Homo sapiens: one gene and its partner. The protein of the gene in region 1 purifies or fractionates together with the protein of each later gene. This does not show direct contact. Each region holds a gene or a part of one and is shown on either strand. Other genes may lie near its edges.

The links. The genes of interacting proteins can lie anywhere in the genome.
Region 2: the proteins of MTSS2 (region 1) and TXNDC5 purify together in Homo sapiens (affinity purification with mass spectrometry; one large-scale study listed by BioGRID and IntAct). This does not show direct contact.

The regions. Positions count from the first base shown.
Region 1 is NC_000016.10:70,672,432-70,676,078, forward strand, and holds part of MTSS2 (protein MTSS 2), read right to left. Parts: intron 2,098-3,647; coding exon 1,875-2,097; intron 1-1,874. UniProt on the Homo sapiens protein: Involved in plasma membrane dynamics. Potentiated PDGF-mediated formation of membrane ruffles and lamellipodia in fibroblasts, acting via RAC1 activation. May function in actin bundling.
Region 2 is NC_000006.12:7,908,603-7,912,349, forward strand, and holds the start of TXNDC5 (thioredoxin domain-containing protein 5 isoform 1 precursor), read right to left. Parts: upstream 2,187-3,747; 5' UTR 2,175-2,186; coding exon 1,912-2,174; intron 1,476-1,911; exon of another isoform or gene 1,211-1,475; intron 1-1,210. UniProt on the Homo sapiens protein: Protein disulfide isomerase of the endoplasmic reticulum lumen involved in the formation of disulfide bonds in proteins. Can reduce insulin disulfide bonds.

The DNA of each region.
Region 1 (3,647 bases):
ACAGGAGAGAGAAAACTGGCAAAAATAGAAGACTGTACGTTACTTAGTATTATACCAGTGTTAATTTCTTGGTTTTAAAAATGTTTTTGGTGGTTACATAAAGTAAGATGTCAACACTGGGGAGATTCTGGGAAGAGTATATGGGAACTCTACATATTTTACAACTTTTCTACAAGTCTAAAATTATTTCAAAATAAAAAGTTAAAAAAAAAACCCAAACAAAAAACCCTCAGTGGGTAGGTTAAATAGCAAAAAAAAAAAAAAAGAAAAAGTCGATTGTAAGATAAAACTGAAGAAATGATCCAGAATATATCCGGAGAAACAAGGAGATAGAAAATATGAGCTCAGAGATGCCTAAGATAGAAAGAGAGGGCTGGACATGCATCCAACTGGAATCCCTGAGGACAGAATAGAAAGAATCAAAGTGGAAGTAAAGAGATAATGACTGGCTGGGCGCGGTTGCTCACACCTGTAATCCCAGCACTTTGGGAGGCTAAGGCAGGCAGATCCCTTGAGCCCAGGAGTTCAAGACCAGCCTGGGCAACATGGCAAAATGTTGTCTCTACTAAAAATACAAAAATTAGCTGGGCATGGTGGTGCATGCCTATAGTCCCAGCTGCTTTGGAGGGTGAGGTGGGAGGATCGCTTGAGCCTGGGAGGAGGAGGAGGTTGCAGTGAGCCAAGATCGCGCCACTGTGCTCCAGCCTAGGTGACAGAGTAAGATCGTGTCTCAAAACAAAACAAAACAAAACAAAATGAAATAATGACTGAAAATTCCAAGGACAAATGAAAGACATGAATACCAACAAGGAGAGGTTAAATAAAAATAAATCCACATTGTAGACACGCTGTAGCAAAACTAAAGAGAAGGCCTAAAAGTGCCCAGAGAGAGACTCAGATTCCTCAGAAAGAAGCATCAGTGACTGACAGCTGACCTTCCAACCAATGGTGGAAGCCAGAACACAGCGGAAAAATACCTTCACAGTGTGGATGGAAGACAACTGTCACCCCAGAATAGTGTTCCTGGCAAAACGAACTTTCAAGAAGAGGACAAAATAAAACATGTTTACAGACAAACAAACAAAAACTGAGAGTTTACAACTACAGATCTATTCTAAAAGAACTTCTAAAAGATGTTTTTTACTTCAGAAAGAAAGAAAATAAGCTTTGGAGGATTTGAGATGCAAGAAAAAAATGACAAGAAATGTGTATTAACATATGGGTAAATCTAAATAAGTACTGTATGTATAAAATAAAGAAATTAAGAAGAAAAATGTCATTTGTGGGTACTGTAAAAAAAAAGAGAAAATAATATAGCTTGTAAGTTTGAGAAGGAGTGGGTGACAAGTAAAAAAATATATATTAAGGGCCTTGAATTACTCAGGAGGTGGGGTTGTGTTAAGTATGCATATGGTAAGATTTCAAGGTAACCTATAAAAGAAAAGAGACAGAATATAACTTACAATCCAGCAGACGGGGAATAAGAGAAAAGAAAAAACAAAGTCAAGGGTAGAGACAAGAATTCAGGACAAATAGAAAGAAGAAAGCCAGAAGTCCAAATATGTCAGTAAATACAAAGGGGCTAAAAATGGCAATTAAAAGATAGAGGTTGTCAGATTGGATAAAAAAAGAAAATCTAGGCATTATGCTGCTTACAAGAGACTCATTTAAGATATAAAGATATGTGAATTTAAAAGCAGAGATAGAAAATAATAATATAAATACTGAACAGAATAAAGGCCTTGGGGGCCTTCAGGCCAGTCTCAACAGCTATAGTAGTCTCAACAGCTATAGTAGTCCCGCATGTGGCTTGCCTGATGCTGGCATAAGGCTGCTGCACCCCACCCTGACTGATCCTCCTAACGCCCCCTCACCTGGCTGGTGATGTCTGAAGGCATAGGCGAGGGGGGCTTGGAGTAGGTGGCGTCCTGGGAGACGAAGCCAGAGTCATGGGAGGAAACGCTGGAGAGGCGAGCGGTGGTGGTGGCTGGCTGCGCCAGGCTGCGGTAGCGACAGGTGGAACTGGGTGAGTATGTTTGGGCACCCCCAGGCCATGGGGCTCCGCCACCCTTGGCACTGCTACTGCTGCTGGGGGCACTAGGGGAGTGAAGGAAGAGGGCACAGCAGCCAGACAGGGAGACAGAGGGGTGTGTGTTTGGGGGAGGTTGACAAACGAGGGTGGGGAAAGAGGTGAGGGGCAAAGGAAGGAAAAGACAATGTCAGACTAGGAGGTCCTGAGACCCAGGTGCTACACAGGAGCTGTGTTCTGGGACGGTGTGGAAGGGGAGGGCCAGAGCAGGGTACCCCCAGCCCCAGTGCTGAGGGGAGCCGTGGTCAGGGAATGCCCAGGGTGAGGCAACCTCTCTGCCTCCTATTCTGCCACTAAGAACAGTTGTCCAGGCTGGGCACAGTGGCTCATGTCTGTAATCCCAGAACTTTGGGAGACCAAGGCGGGTGGATCATTTGAGGACAGGAGTTCAAGACCAGCCTGGAGAACATAGCGAAACCCCATCACCACTAAAAATGCAAAAGTTAGCTGGGCATGGTGGCGCATGCCTGTAATCTCAGCTACTTGGCAGGCTGAGGCACGAGAATCACTTGAACCTGGGAGGCGGAGGTTGCAGTGAGCCAAGATTATGCCACTGCACTCCAGCCTAGGAGAGCAAGGCTCTGTCTTGAAAAAAAAAAAAAGAAACAAGAAACAGTTGTCCTGTCTGGGCGTGGTGGCTCACACCTGTCCCAGCACTTTGGGAGTCTGAGGTGGGTGGATTGCTTGAGTCCAGGAATTTGAGACCAGCCTGGGCAATAGGGTGAGACCCTGTCTCTACAAAATATATGAAAATTAGCCAGGCGTGGTGGTGCACACCTGTATTCCCAGCTACTTGGGAAGCTGAGGCAGGAGAATCGCTTGAACCCGGGAGGTCGAGGCCACAGTGAGCCATGATTGTGCCACTGCACTCCAGCCTGGGTGACAGAGCGAGACCCTGTCTCACAATGACAACAAAACCCAAAAAACCCACCAAAAAACCTATTGGTTTCACCAAAGATCTTAATCTAGATTCCTATATCCTAAAGAATATATCTTTATCACTGAGGCCTCAGCCTCCCGAGTAGCTGGGACTACAGGCACACACCACCATGCCCGGCTAATTTTTTTGTATTTTTTAGTAAAGACGGGGTTTCACCGTTTTTACCAGGATGGTCTCAATCTCCTGACCTCGTGATCCGCCTGCCTCGGCCTCCCGAACTGCTGGGATTACAGGCGTGAACGACTGCCCCCGGTGAGTCCAATCATTCCTAAACCACCTTCTCAAAATCTGGTATTTGCCATCCAGTCCTAACTGGATGTCTAGCATATGGTGATGGTGTGTGTGCGTACAGAGGTCACCTTCCAAGTGGGTCCTGCACCCACCATCACCCTCACTCTCTCCAATCCCTCAAGGGTGTCCAGCCCTCTATGGCTCACACCCTCAGCACAGCAATTCAACCCTTGGGTGGTGTTCCTGGCTAAGCGTGACCCTGAAGCCTCCCAGCCTCTGCCCCTGCTCATGGCTGTCCCCTGCAATCAGCCCCTTCACTGTGGGACGGCCACCCACGCAGGGTCTGAAGAGCCTCTCTCTGAGGTAGTAGCTGATTGCTGTGCCTGG
Region 2 (3,747 bases), on another chromosome or scaffold:
ATTGAGGCCAGGAGTTTGAGACCAGCCCCGGCAACATAGCGAGACCCTGTTTCTACCAACTACAACAAAAACAACAACAACAAAATAAGCTGGGTGTGATGACCTGCGCCTGTAGTCACAGCTACTTCAGAGGCTGAGGCAGGAGAATCACTTGAGCCCAGGAGTTAGAGGCTACAGTGAGCTGCGGCTGCGTACCACTGGTTTCAGGCTGGGTAACAGAGCAAGATCCCATCTCTAAAATAAATAAATAATGAAGAAAGAAAAAAGAAAACCCATCGACAGATGTATTCCACTGAAATAGGCTCCAATTAAGTAGTACACTTAATTGAAATAGTTGCTGAGAATACTCCCGAACAAAGAGAAACTGTTAATACTGCCTGATTGTTTTATGTTACAAAGTAATTTCTAAACCATTGGAGTTGTAAAAATTCGAGTCAGTTGGTTCTTAGGAATGTGAAACATAATGTACTTCATATACACATTGTTAATAAACCCACAGTGGCCCTAAAAGTTGATTTAACTCCAAATGAACTGAAACGCAGTAATAGCCTGAATACAAGGTTAAGAGAAAAACGTTTCTCCCAGTTTGAAAGGTACAATTTCTGAACTGGCCATTTTTCTTAGGGTACCTTTTCTCTATGCCTCCCTACATCCCTTTCCCAAGTGAGCCTCTACTGAGCTCTGGGGAAGAATACCAAGTTCTGCAACAAGAACCTGCAGGCTATTCCAACCTCTCAAAGGTCTTGTGTCCTAAAATTATGGCTTTCTGCTCTGGCCTGTGGTCACTTCCCTTCCTCGGGGCATCCCGGCACTGGCAGGAAAGCTGTGCACATGCTTGTGTGAATGACAGGAAGCTCTTCCGTGGGATGAGTGCCAGGGTAGGGTCTCTCAGGTCAGCAGCGAGGCCCACACCAAAGCCTCGCCCAGAGAACCAAAGCAAGAGGGACCATCTGCTCAACGGAGGGGCTTTTCCGATCTCACACATAACAAGTGACCTGGACCCGAGAGAGCAGCAGGGAGGTGACAGGACAGCCTGGAGTTGAGGACCAGTGGGCTCCGTTCAGAGATTACATCCACCCTGAGCTGCAGGGGGGCGGAGGGGTTCCAGAATTCGCACTACCTTGGTCTTCCCGGGGTAGCTCAGCAACCCTCCTCTGCCCGGACCACTCCTTCCTATCCCACAAAAGACGCACAAAGTGGGAAACCACACCTTCCTGGGTTCTATTTTTCAGTTAAAGCCTCTGGAAGGGGACGTGCCCGCAGTCTGTCCCAGCCGACCCCGGTGGCCGCGGCAGCAGCAAGGCCGCTCTGGTGAGTGCACGTGGCCCACGGGCAGGCCGCGCGTCCGGCCGGCACAGGAAGTTTGGGGCGCTGGGCAGGGACCGCGGGGTGACATTTGGACTCCCGGCTGCCCGAAAGGGCGACGACCCCACCTTCCCCTCCCTCGGTGCCGAGGTGCAAGAGGCGGTTGAATTCAGGAGCGCGGCGCAGGGCGGGCTTTTCCCGGCTGTCCCCTAGGGGTCCGCCCCCTCCTCCCGCACCGCCCCGGCCGCCGAGCGCCACGTCAGCCGCCAGTGCCCGGCCCGCTGAGCTCACGCCTCCCGACCCGGAGCCCCAAGCCCTCGGTCCCCTGCAGTCCCCGGCTCCCGGCCCCGAGCCGCGGCGCCCGCGCCCCCCGCTCCCCGCCAGCCGGAGCCCCGAACCCGCAGGGTCCCCGCGCTCCCGGCCCCGCGCCCCCAGTATTACACCCCGCACCCCTGAGCCCCGAGCCCCGCGCCCGTAGCACGCACGCCGCAGACCAGAGCCGTCGGCGTCCACGTGGCCCCGGGACCCCCCGCCCGCGGCGCCCAAGCGCCCCACGCCCCGCGAAGCGCCAAGTGCGGGGCAGGGCGCCGGCCTGCGCGGCGTTACCAGGGCGCGAAGAACATGACGAAGTGCGCGGCGCTCTGGATCCCGTGCGTGAACATGTCGGCCGTGTACAGGTGCTTGCTGTGCGGGTCCTGTCCGTCCTCGCCGTCTGCCGCGGGGGGCCCGTCCGCCGCCGCCGCCGCCGCCTCCTGGGCCCGGGCGCCCCAGCGCCCGCCGCCGCCATGGCCCAGCAGCAGCAGCAGCAGCGCAGTCAGGGCCGCCGGCCGGGCCAGCAGCGGGAGGAGGCGTCCTGGGCGCGCGGGCATCGCGGCGGGGCTGGGCGCGCTCTCGCCGCGGCCTCCGGTCCCCTCGCAGCGCCCGCCCCGCGCCCCGCCCCGGAGAGGCCGCGCCCCTTCCTCTCCCCGCCCGCCCGCGCCGGCGCGCGACCGCTACCCGCCCGAGCCCCGGCTCCGCGCACCGGCAGGGAAGGGCTGGAGCGAGGGACCGAGTCTGGGAGAGCCTTCCGAGTCCGGCCTCCTGCCTTCCCGCCATGGGACGGCTCGCCCCAATCCCGCGAGGCTCCTGCGCCTCCGCAACCCAGGCCCGCACCCCTTTCCCCAGGGGCCCGCTCTGCTCAGAGCGGCGGTGAACACACGAAGTAACGATGAGGCCAGCGGGAAGCCACGGAGGGGCAGGTCAGCCTCGGCTAATCTCAGCTCACACAAGCACCCCGCGATTTCAGGCCAAAGGAAGGAGAGAGCTGCTGTCAGCAGAATATAGGAAATCGGGCAAAAGACGGTGGGGTTTGCACCTGAATTAGTTAGATTCTTGGCCAGAGCTCAACTGTGATTCTCGACCTGGGCTCAGAGGGGTGATGAAACCCGCTTCCCAAGTGAACCCCTTGCTGGTTACCCCTGCCCGGCCTCAACTCAGGGATGAAGAGGAAAGAAAGTCAAAGCGGCCTCTTCTAGACAAGAAGGCACCTAGCAGGACTGACTGGGGTCCTACTGTGCCCTCATTTATGCCGGTTACTAAAATGAATGACAGCACGCCTGCTATGGCTGAACTCAGCCTGTGGAATGGCCCGAAGGCATCCCTGCCCAGCGACTCATAACTCGCACCTGCACACACACCTTACAGCAGATGGTAATCGAAAGCTCCAGCCCTACCCCGGGGATCTGAAGCTAAATTAGAATCACCGGGTTGCTCTCCGGGATCCTGCCTGCTCTTTGATTATCCTCAATCCAGGAAGCCCCAGGTAGTTAACTCCTGGCTTGGCAACAGGGGACGCGCCCACTGTCTCACCTGTCATTATTCTGCTCCCGCCTTAGGCCCAGCCACTTATGAACCTTTAACCATGGGTTGCCAAACACCAAAACCATCAATCTCCCTCCAAAGTCTGTTCTTCCAGCCACTTAAGCTTGAAACATGGGAGGCATCTTGTATTGCTCGCTCTTTTCCCGTGTGTCTCAAAATTCAACCGCATTTCCTGTAACCATGATTTCCTTCCAGCATTCTCAGTGTTCATACCCTGAACGGAGACTAAGCCTGGCCTATTGCAGTAGCTTTCTAAGAGTCTCTTTCATTCACATGGCTGGAAAATTAATTTTCCTAAAGCCTGCCTTTGACCAAGACAGTTTGCTGCTTAAACTTGGACCAAAACGCCACCACTGTCCCCATGGCCTTGGCCGATGGGGTGAAATAGTCATGCCTGGGGCAGCCATTCAAGGCCTTCCGTGATGTGGTTGCATCATGCTTTGTGTCCCTGTGAAACTCACTCAACACTAGAAATCCAGGGATTCTCTCCAATAACTGTTATTGCCAAACTCTAATCCCTGTGTTCTCCAACACCTCAAACCTCCCAAACCCTTCCACGGTGCTGTTGGGAAATTCCCACAA